3 linked regions of the Homo sapiens genome follow. The protein of the gene in region 3 purifies or fractionates together with the protein of the main gene of each other region. This does not show direct contact. Each region holds a gene or a part of one and is shown on either strand. Other genes may lie near its edges.

Region 1 (3,658 bases), on a different chromosome or scaffold from region 3:
ACATCCCTGTGTATCCCTACATACTTCTGCACTTAGTTCCTTAACACGAATTTTTATAAATGTTGGTTCATGTTGTCATATGTTCTCCAGAAAGTCTCTACAGTTTAAGTATCCGTTACCTGAAATGCTTGGGACCAGAAGCGTTTTTGGATTTAAGATTTTTTTGGATTATGGAATATTTGCATATACAAAGGAGATATCTTGAGGACAGGACTCAAGTGCAAACATGAAATTCACTTATGTTTCATTTACCCCTCATACACATAGCCTAAAGGTAATTTTATACAATATTTTTAACATTTTTGTGCATGAAACAAAGTTGGATTTGTTTTTTTTTGTTTTTGTTTTGGAGACAGAGTCTTGCTCTGTGGCCCAGGCTGGAGTGCAGTGCTGCGATCTCGGCTCACTGCAAACTCTGCCTCCTGGGTTCATGCCATTCTCCTGCTTCAGCCTCCTGAGTAGGTGGTACTGCAGGAGGCTGCCACTACGCCTGGCTAATTTCTTTTTGTATTTTTCGTACAGATGGGGTTTCACTGTGTTAGCCAGGATGGTCTCCATCTCCTGACCTCGTGATCCGCCCGCCTCGGCCTCCCAAAGTGCCGGGATTACAGGCGTGAGCCACTGTGCCCGGCCACAAAGTTTTTTTTTTTTCTTTTTTTGACACAGAGTTTTGCTCTGTCACCCATGCATAATCATAGCTTATTGTAACCTAAAACTCTTGAGGTCAAATGATCCTCCCACCTCAGCCTCCCAAGTAGCTGAGACTATAGGCATGTGCCATAATTTAAAAAAAAATTTTTGTAGCTAATTAAAAAAAATTTTTTTGTAGAGATGGAGTCTTGCTATGTTGCCCAGGCTGGTCTCAAACTCCTGGCCTCAAGCAATCCTTCTGTGTCAGTCTCCCAAAGTGTTGGGATTATAGGCATGAGCCACTATGCCCTGCCAGAACAATGGCTGCATTTTTCTCTTTTTTTTTTATTGATGGGCTCTGATATGATTAAATATTATAAAATGAGAACTGTTTCAACAACTATGCAGCATAATGTTTAAGGACAAAATATTGAATATACTTTTTATTATATATGTATTTTATCACATAGTAAGGAATGCTGAGGTGCTTAATCCATCCAATAAATTGAAAATAAAATCTTTACATTTCTATATTTGTCAGTATACAGAATTCTGAAGATGGATCTTGACTCAGGGTGATAAATCAGTTTTCAAGGAAATTGGCTACATCACATGACGTCATTTCAGCCCCCAGAAGTTTCAGATGTTGGAGCATTTCAGATTTCAGATATTTGGACTAGGGATGCTCAACCTGTACCAGTTACATTCCCACTAACGATGTTGGGAAATAGCCTATTGCCTACATTCTTATCAATAAAAAATTATCATCTTTTTTTGGACAGAGTCTCACTCTGTCTCCCAGGCTGGAGTGCAGTGGCACAATCTCGGCCCACTGCAACCTCCACCTCCCAGGTTCAAGCGATTCTCGTGCCTCAGCCTCCCGAGTAGCTGGGATCACAGGCCTGTGCCACCATGCTAATTTTTGTATTTTTAGTAAAGATGGGGTTTCACTATGTTGGCCAGGCTGGTCTTGAACTCATGACCTCAGGTAATCCAGCCACCTTGGCCTCCCAGAGTGCTGGGATTACAGGCATGAGCCACTGCGCCTAGCCCAAAAAATCTTTTAAAAATTATTTTTAAATTATTTCTTTTAAATCACTACCAATCTGGTAAAAATGAGTTTTGGTAGTGGTTTCTAGATGGCAGTGAAGGTTGATCCTTTCTTTGCTGTTAGCTTATTCATTAAAAGCCCTACTGTACAATTTTTTATTTTTTAGGCTTCTCATAACATTGGGATAGCAATGGATACTGAGCAGGGTTTGATTGTCCCTAATGTGAAAAATGTTCAGATCTGCTCTATATTTGACATCGCCACTGAACTGAACCGCCTCCAGAAATTGGGCTCTGTGAGTCAGCTCAGCACCACTGATCTTACAGGAGGAACATTTACTCTTTCCAACATTGGATCAGTGAGTAATAATGTTGAAATACATAAACCATTACTTAAGGTTTCTGATCATATGCTTAATTAAAAATAGAAAAGTCACTTGGCATTTGTTCCCTGAAAAATCTTAACTTTTAATACTCTCCTTTTTTTTTTTTTAAAAAATAGATTGGTGGTACCTTTGCCAAACCAGTGATAATGCCACCTGAAGTAGCCATTGGGGCCCTTGGATCAATTAAGGTACATGTATTAGATAACTGAAAAATGGAGTTTAAGCAAATTCAGGGACTAAACACAATGAAGAGTAACCATTTCTAAGGTTTCCCCTCCTTTTGTAGGTTTTAAGTTTCTGAGTTTATCTTAGAAAGTCTATTATTTCTTTTTTTTTTTTTTTTTTAACTTTAAGTTCTGGGATACATGTGCAGAATGTGCAGGTTTGTTACATGAGTATACACCTGCCATGGTGGTTTGCTGCACCCATCAACCCGTCATCTACATTAGGTATTTCTTCTAGTGATATTCCTCCCCTAGCCCCAGACCCCACGACAGGTCCCCAGTGTATGGTGTTCCCCACCCTCTGTCCATGTGTTCTCATTTTTCAACTCCCACTTATGAGTGAGAACATGCAGTGTTTGGTTTTCTGGTTTCCAGCTTCATCCATGACCCTGCAAAGGACATGAACTCACTCTTTTTTATGGCTGCATAGTATTCCATGGTGTATATGTGCCACATTTTCTTTATCCAGTCTAACTAACATTGATGGACATTTGGGTTGGTTCCAAGTCTTTGCTATTGTGAATAGTGCTGCAATAAACATACATGTGCATGTGTCTTTATAGTAGCATGATTTATAATCCTTTGGGTATATACTCAGTAATGGGATTGCTGGGTCAAATGGTATTTCTGGTTCTAGATCCTTGAGGAATCGCCACACTGTCTTCCACAATGGTTGAACTCATTTACACTCCCACCAACAGTGTAAAAGCGTTTCTATCTCTCTATATTCTCTCCAGCATCTGTTATTTCCTGCCTTTTTAATGATTGCCATTGTAACTGGCATGGTATCTCATTGTAGTTTTGATTTGCATTTCTCTAATGACCAGTGATCATGGGCTTTTTTTCATATGTTTGTTGGCCATATAAATGTCTTCTTTTGAAAAGTGTCTGTTCATATCCTTCGCCCACTTTATGATGGGTTGTTTGTTTTTTTCTTGTAAATTTGTTTAAGTTCCATGTAGATTCTGGATATTAGCCCTTTGTCAGATAGATAGATTGCAAAAATGTTCTCCCATTCTGTAGGTTGCCTGTTCTCTCTGATGATAGTTTCTTTTGCTGTGCAGAAGCTCTTTAGTTTCATTACATCTGATTTGTCAATTTTGGCTTTGTTGCAATTGCTTTTGGTGATTTAGTCATGAAGTCTTTGCCTATGCCTATGTCCTAAATGGTATTGCCTAGGTTTTCTTCTAGGGTTTTTATGGTTTTAGGTCTTACATTTCAGTCTTTAATCCATCTTGAGTTAATTTTTGTATAAGGTGTAAGGAAGGGGTCCAGTTTCAGTTTTCTGCATATGGCTAGCCAGTTGTCCCAACACCATTTATTAAATAGGGAATCCTTTCCGCATTGCTTGTTTTTGTCAGGTTTGTC
Region 2 (3,658 bases), on a different chromosome or scaffold from region 3:
AGAATGGCGTGAACCCGGGAAGCGGAGCTTGCAGTGAGCCGAGATTGCGCCACTGCAGTCCGCAGTCCGGCCTGGGCGACAGAGCGAGACTCCGTCTCAAAAAAAAAAAAATAAAATAAATAAATAAATAAATAAAGAAAGAAAGAAAGAAAGAAAGAAAAAATAATAGACTTATGTGGGATTATATGGAATAATTAGATATGTTTAGGTGAACATAGATCTTAAAAAAATCATTTGCACATAGTTTTTCAGTAACTACAGGATGCATAATTACATGATTTAACAAGTGGGACATTGGCCAGGCCTGGTGGCTCACGCCTCTAATCCCAGCACTTTGGGAGGCCAAGGCAGGGAGATCATCTGAGGTCAGGAGTTTGAGACCAGCTGGCCAACGTGGTGAAACTCTGTCTCTACTAAAAATGCAAAAATTAGCCAGGTGTGGTGGCACACGCCTGTAGTCCCAGCTGCTTGGGAGGCAGAGGCAGGAGAATGGTGTGAACCCGGGCGGCGGAGCTTGCAGTGAGCTGAGATCGTGCCATTGCACTCCAGCCTGCACAACAGAGCAAGACTCCATCTCAACAACAATAACAACAAAAAACCAAAAAAAAAAAAAAAAAAAAAAAGGGACATCATAGAAATAAAAAAGTAGTAATGAATTAAAAAATACACGACTGTCATGGTTATATGAAACCTAATAAAAATCTATAAGGTCATTTTTGTCTCTGTTAAACAAATAGAATCTTCCCAGTCAGTTTATGTTCATGGCTTTATTTCTCTAGGGTGGAATTGCATGGAATATGAGTATCTTTTAAGTTTACTAAAGTATGCCAAATTAATTACTTTCTTTATGTTTGACTTTTTTTCAGTCATATCAGCAGTGTGTAAGGTACCTATTTCTCTGTACAGAGGCCTACACTTGATGGGCTCAGAATTTAACATTTTTGCCTACCTGATGAGAATAAGTTATATTAATTTCACTGATAACTAGTGATGTTGATCTTTTTATGTTGTCTGGTCTTTTTCTTTATGACTTGTGCTATTTGCATCTTTTGAGACAGAGTCTCACTCAAAAGTCACCCAAGCTAGAGTGCAGTAGTGTGTGATCACGGCTCACTGCAGCCTCGGCTTCCCAGGCTCAGGGGATCGTCCAACCTCAGCCTCTTGAGTGGTTGTGACTACACGTGTGCACCACCATGCCCAGCTATTTTTTTTTTTTCCATTTTTTGTAGAGATGGGGTTTTACCACATTGCCCAGGCTGGTCTTGAACTCCTGAGTTCAAGCAATCCGCCCACCTTGGCCTCCCAGAGTGCTGGGATTACAGCTGTGAACCACTGTGCCTGGCCCACTGTTTGTACCTTTTCAGAAATCCCTTTATGCTCACTCAAAATTATTTCCCTATGTGTTCTTTTACAATTTTGGGCTAATGTACAACTGCTTTAATTCTCCTGGAATTTATTTTTGTCTAAGTTAAGGTGTGGATTTTATCTGTTTCCATGTTGAGATAACTAGTTGTCTTAATATCATTCATTGGATAGTTTATTCTTTCCCCACCAATTTGTAATGTCACCTCTCTTGTTTGCTAGGCTCTGCATCCATATATATGTGGACCTGTCTAAGGGCCCTCTATTCTCTTCCACTGGTCTATTCCAGGAATTTTTTTTTTTAAGACGGAGTCTCGCTCTGTCGCCCAGGCTGGAGTGCAGTGGCGCGATCTCACCTTACTGCCAGCTCCACCTCCCGGGTTCACGCCATTCTCCTGCCTCAGCCTCCCGAGTAGTTGGGACTACAGGCGCCTGCCACCACGCCTGGCTAATTTTTTTGTACTTTTAGTAGAGACGGGGTTTCACCGTGTTAGCCAGGATGGTCTCGATCTCCTGCCCTCGTGATCCACCCTCCTCAGCCTCCCAAAGTGCTGGGATTACAGGTTTGAGCCACCGCGCCCGGCCTATTCCAGGATATTTTAAAGTAGAAATTTTCTTATGAAAACCTTCAGACACAAAGAGAGAATCATGTTATGAACCCCAGTGTACTCATCCAGATTCAAGTTAATAGGAATTTACCACACTAGGATCATTTTTGTTTTTGTAATGTATTTAAGGCATATTCTAGGTCTTAGGTCATTTCACCCCATATACTTCAGCCTGAATATGTATTATCAAACCATTAAAATAAAGCATTTTTAATATTGTCTAATGTCCCTGTCCATATTGAGTTCTCTGAATGTTTAAAAGTATCTTTTTATAGTTGGTTTGTTTAAATCAGGATCTGACATAGTCCTCACATTAAATTTGTTTTTTTTTTGTTTCCTAATTATTTTCAATTTAAAGCATTTGAGCAAATTCCTCCTCCACCAGTCTCTTTAGTTTTCCTGCAGTTGACCTCTTGAAGAAATCAACTAGGTCTTTAATATTCCACATTATGGATTTGTTTGTGCTCTTTTTTGGTGTTACTTAATTTGTTTTATCTCCGTATGTATTCTGTAAACTAAAAGTTAGCTTTAAAGGCTTGATTTGATTTAGGTTCAACTTCTTTGGGGTCAGGAGGCAAAGAATGCTTTGTAGGTAGTACTGATACTTCATATGGCATTACACTGGGAGGCACGTGATGTGTGGGTGTTTCACCCACTCATAGCAATGCTAACATTAAAATCTTGGGATTCACGTGATTTCAGCAGGATTCCTCCATAAGGAAGTTTTGATCTGACTTGCCATTCCTCCTGTGTTTATTAGCTGGAATTCTTTAAGGAACAACTTTGCCTCATCAGCCAGAGCTATTTTGGTTATCCTGAAGTACCATTGATACAAGAAAAGCAGTGTAAATAATTTGTTCTTTCCCTTTAATTTGTCAGTGTTCAGAGTGACAAGTTGGTGCCCTAGCTCATCCCAGTGGTGAGCAATAATGGTTTTTATTAATATCATTTTTGAAGATTTGAGTATCACTAGTCTAGATTTTTTAGATGTTTTCAATAAGAATGTTAATCTTTAGACTAGTCCATTACTACCCGAAACAGAAGCCTTTTCTCTTAACTATATATTGCTGTATTGTTTCATTTTAGACAGAGCATGTATGTTTTAATTCTAATGTAAATGAAAATGTTAACCACTTTTCTAATTCTCATTTTTTGATTAATGTGATTTTACAGTTCATGTGTTCATTGGTCATTTGTATTTTCTCCTTTTCATTTTTTTGTGTTTTTACTTTTTCTCTTTGTTGATCCTTGTCACCCTTTTGTTTCTTGTTGCAATTTCCCTCTAATTTTTTTTTTTCTTTGAGACGGAGTCTCATTCTGTTGCTCAGGCTGGAGTGCAGTGGTGTGATCTTGGCTCACTGCAACCTCCGCCTCCCCAGTTCAAGTGATTCTCCTGCCTTGGCCTCCTGAGTAGCTGGGATTACAGGTGTGCGCCACCACACCTGGCTAATTTTTGTATTTTTAGTAGAGACAGGGTTTCACCATGTTGGTCGGGCTGGTCTTGAACTCCTGACCTTGTGATCCGACGGCCTCAGCCTCCCAAAGTGCTGGGATGACAGGCATGAGCTACCATGCCTGGCCAGTTTCCCTCTAATTTATAATTTGCTTTAATTTTTAAAGTTATTCGTTTGAATGGACCTGTATGTCTTACAAAGCATGGCTGTTCTTCCCTCCGTGCTATAAAATGC
Region 3 (2,972 bases):
GTTCAAGAAGCACATACTAACACACTTGAAACACATAAAAACGGAAGCAGCAAAGAAATAGAAGATACAAAGAATTAAATGAAAATTTTGGAACATAAAAACACAGTAAGTAAAGTCAAAAGCTGGATAGACTCCATGGATTCCACAGCAGATTCAAGAGGACAAAGAGAAAAAAATCAGTAAACTTGAAGATAGAATAGAAATTACGCAAATTGAACAACAGAGATAAAACTCACCGAAAAATATATATCAGTCTTATGGACATGTGAGACTATAGCAGATCTAATATTCATGTTGTTAAAGTCAAGAAGGAAAAGACAAAGAGGGTGGGGCTGAAAAAGTATTCATAGAATTAATAGCCGAAATGTTCCCAAATTTGCCAAACAACATAAACATACAGATTCAAGCTGAGAAAACCCTAAATGGGATAAACCCAAAGAAATCCATGCCAAGATATATTACAAACTGAAAACTGCAGGCCAAAGGAAAAAAAAAAAACATTGAAAGTGGTGAGATACAAGACACCTTATGTATAAGGAAAAATAAAACAATTTGAATGACATCATCATCAGAAATTACCTAGCAAAAGAAAGTGACACAATATTTTCAAATGCTGAACGAGCACTGTCAACTGAGAATCCTATATCCGGTGAAAATATCCTTCAATAATAAAAGGGAATTAAGATATGCTCAGATGAAGGAAAACTAAGGGGATTTGTCAACAGCATATCTATCCTAAAGGAAGTTTCTGAAACAGGAAGGAAGGAAATAATAAAAGAAGGAAACCTGGAACATCAGAAAGAAAAAAGCACAGTACAAGTAAAAGTATAGGGTCACATCCAGGATATCACACATTTATTTATTGTGTTTCCTCATTCTCTTAACTGTGACAATTTTTTGGTCTTTCCTTGAATTTGCATTTTTAATAAGCTCCCTAGGTGGTTTTCAGGTGGTAGAATTCGAGACCCATTGCTGCTAAATTCAGAGGCAGATCCAGGCATTTCACTGACCCATAAACTCTTTAAGAAGCATGTTGACTGGGGGAACTTTCCCTTACTTGAGTAGTAGCTTGAACTTTGCTTCCCAAGTCATGCTGGTCAGGGACCCAGCAAAAAAAAACAAACAACAAAAAAAAGAAGGCAGCACACTTGGGGAATTCTGGAGAGAATTTAACAAAACTACCCCTTCATAGAGGTGTAGTCAGGGTTACGGTAACAAATAGGGGATGCTAAAGGAACCAAGAACTAGCACTAGCAAGACTTGAAAAGTTTTACTCTTCATGGGAATGAAAGGGAATAGGAATTCATCCAGCAGCAGCAGTAGTCAGAGATACATAGTTATGAAGAATGCAGCCCTGCCAGAACCACAATGCCCTAAAGCGTGGAGGAAATACAGGAAGACATACCCAAAGCTTTACCTCCTCCTACTCTATATATGCTGGTGCCTCACATTGGTAGAACTGAAATGGAAGTGGCCAAGGGATAAGGAACTGAATGCTAGAGTCCCAGGTCACAGTGGAGGACTGTGGTGGAGAATGAATGGATTTGGGGGTGAGGTAAAGTGGGAATAACTAGCACTGTTTTAAGCAAAATGCCAGAGAAATAACCTGATTACTGTCCTTGGGTTAAAAAGCCAAAACAAGGGCTGAGCGTGGTGGCTCATGCCTGTAATCCCAGCACTTTGGGAGGCCGAGGTGGGCGGATCACAAGGTCAAGAGATCAAACCATCCTGGCCAACGTGGTGAAACCCCGTCTGTAGTAAAAGTACAAAAATTAGCTGGGCATGGTGGCATATGCCTGTAGTCCCAGCCACTCTGAAGGCTGAGGCAGGAGAATTGCTTGAACCTGGGAGGCAGAGGTTGCAGTGAGCCAAGATCGTGCCACTGCTCTCCAGCCTGGCAACAGAGTGAGACTCTGTCTCAAAAAAAAAAAAAAAAAAAAAAAAGCCAAAACAAAACACAACGCTTTTGTGCCAGTATAAATGGACAGCACTCATTTTATGACTAAATCTATCATGCTTTAAAGAAACATTCAATATATTTAACCAATACCTTTAGTTCAGTTTTCTCTTCAGAAAGCCACTTCTGAAACCCAGTTGGCACTTAATGTATGTGTGATTTTACCTGTAAGGTTTCTAATTCCAGTTTGATTTTTCTGGCCAGGAAATTTACATTATTATGTTAATTTAATACAAAGTCTCCAAGGCTTGTAGCAGCTCATCCTTACCTTAAGGTCAAAGCTAGAATACAGCCATCTATAGGTAATATGTCAAAAGATGTTGTCCCCTTATTCTGATAGTAAGAGAGGTATTCAGGCCTTTAACAGTAGATGTTTGACTTTTAGGCCATTCAAATATATAAATCAGTGGGTTTACCACTATTGTATTAAGCAGTGACCACTTGTTTTCTCTTGCAGAGAACATCATGGGAATGCTATGCAGCCATCTGTCAAGGATAACAGTGGTAGCCATGGCTCTCCTATCAGTGGAAAATTAGAAGGCATCTTCTTCAGCTGCAGCACTGAATTCAATACTGGAAAGCCACCCCAGGATTCACCTTATGGAAGATACAGGTTTGAGATTGCCGCAGAAAAACTTTTTAACCCCAATACTAACTTATACTTTGGGGACTTCTACTGTATGTACACTGCTTATCATTATGTGATTCTTGTTATTGCTCCTGTGGGATCACCAGGAGATGAATTTTGTAAGCAGCGCCTTCCTCAACTAAATTCTAAGGATAATAAATTTTTGACCTGTACAGAAGAAGATGGGGTGCTGGTTTACCACCATGCCCAGGATGTCATTTTAGAAGTCATTTACACTGACCCTGTGGATCTTTCTGTGGGCACCGTGGCAGAAATCACTGGTCATCAGCTCATGAGTTTGTCTACTGCAAATGCAAAGAAAGATCCCAGCTGCAAAACCTGTAATATCAGTGTTGGACGTTAATGCCCACTTTTCTTATTCTTACT

The links.
Region 1: the proteins of PHYHIPL (region 3) and DBT purify together in Homo sapiens (co-immunoprecipitation; one large-scale study listed by IntAct). This does not show direct contact.
Region 2: the proteins of PHYHIPL (region 3) and SMCHD1 purify together in Homo sapiens (affinity purification with mass spectrometry; one large-scale study listed by BioGRID and IntAct). This does not show direct contact.

Annotation. Positions count from the first base shown.
Region 1 is NC_000001.11:100,204,826-100,208,483, reverse strand, and holds part of DBT (lipoamide acyltransferase component of branched-chain alpha-keto acid dehydrogenase complex, mitochondrial isoform 1 precursor), read left to right. Parts: intron 1-1,847; coding exon 1,848-2,039; intron 2,040-2,182; coding exon 2,183-2,254; intron 2,255-3,658. UniProt on the Homo sapiens protein: The branched-chain alpha-keto dehydrogenase complex catalyzes the overall conversion of alpha-keto acids to acyl-CoA and CO(2).
Region 2 is NC_000018.10:2,662,068-2,665,725, forward strand, and holds part of SMCHD1 (structural maintenance of chromosomes flexible hinge domain-containing protein 1), read left to right. Parts: intron 1-3,658. UniProt on the Homo sapiens protein: Non-canonical member of the structural maintenance of chromosomes (SMC) protein family that plays a key role in epigenetic silencing by regulating chromatin architecture.
Region 3 is NC_000010.11:59,242,643-59,245,614, forward strand, and holds part of PHYHIPL (phytanoyl-CoA hydroxylase-interacting protein-like), read left to right. Parts: intron 1-2,414; coding exon 2,415-2,949; 3' UTR 2,950-2,972. UniProt on the Homo sapiens protein: May play a role in the development of the central system.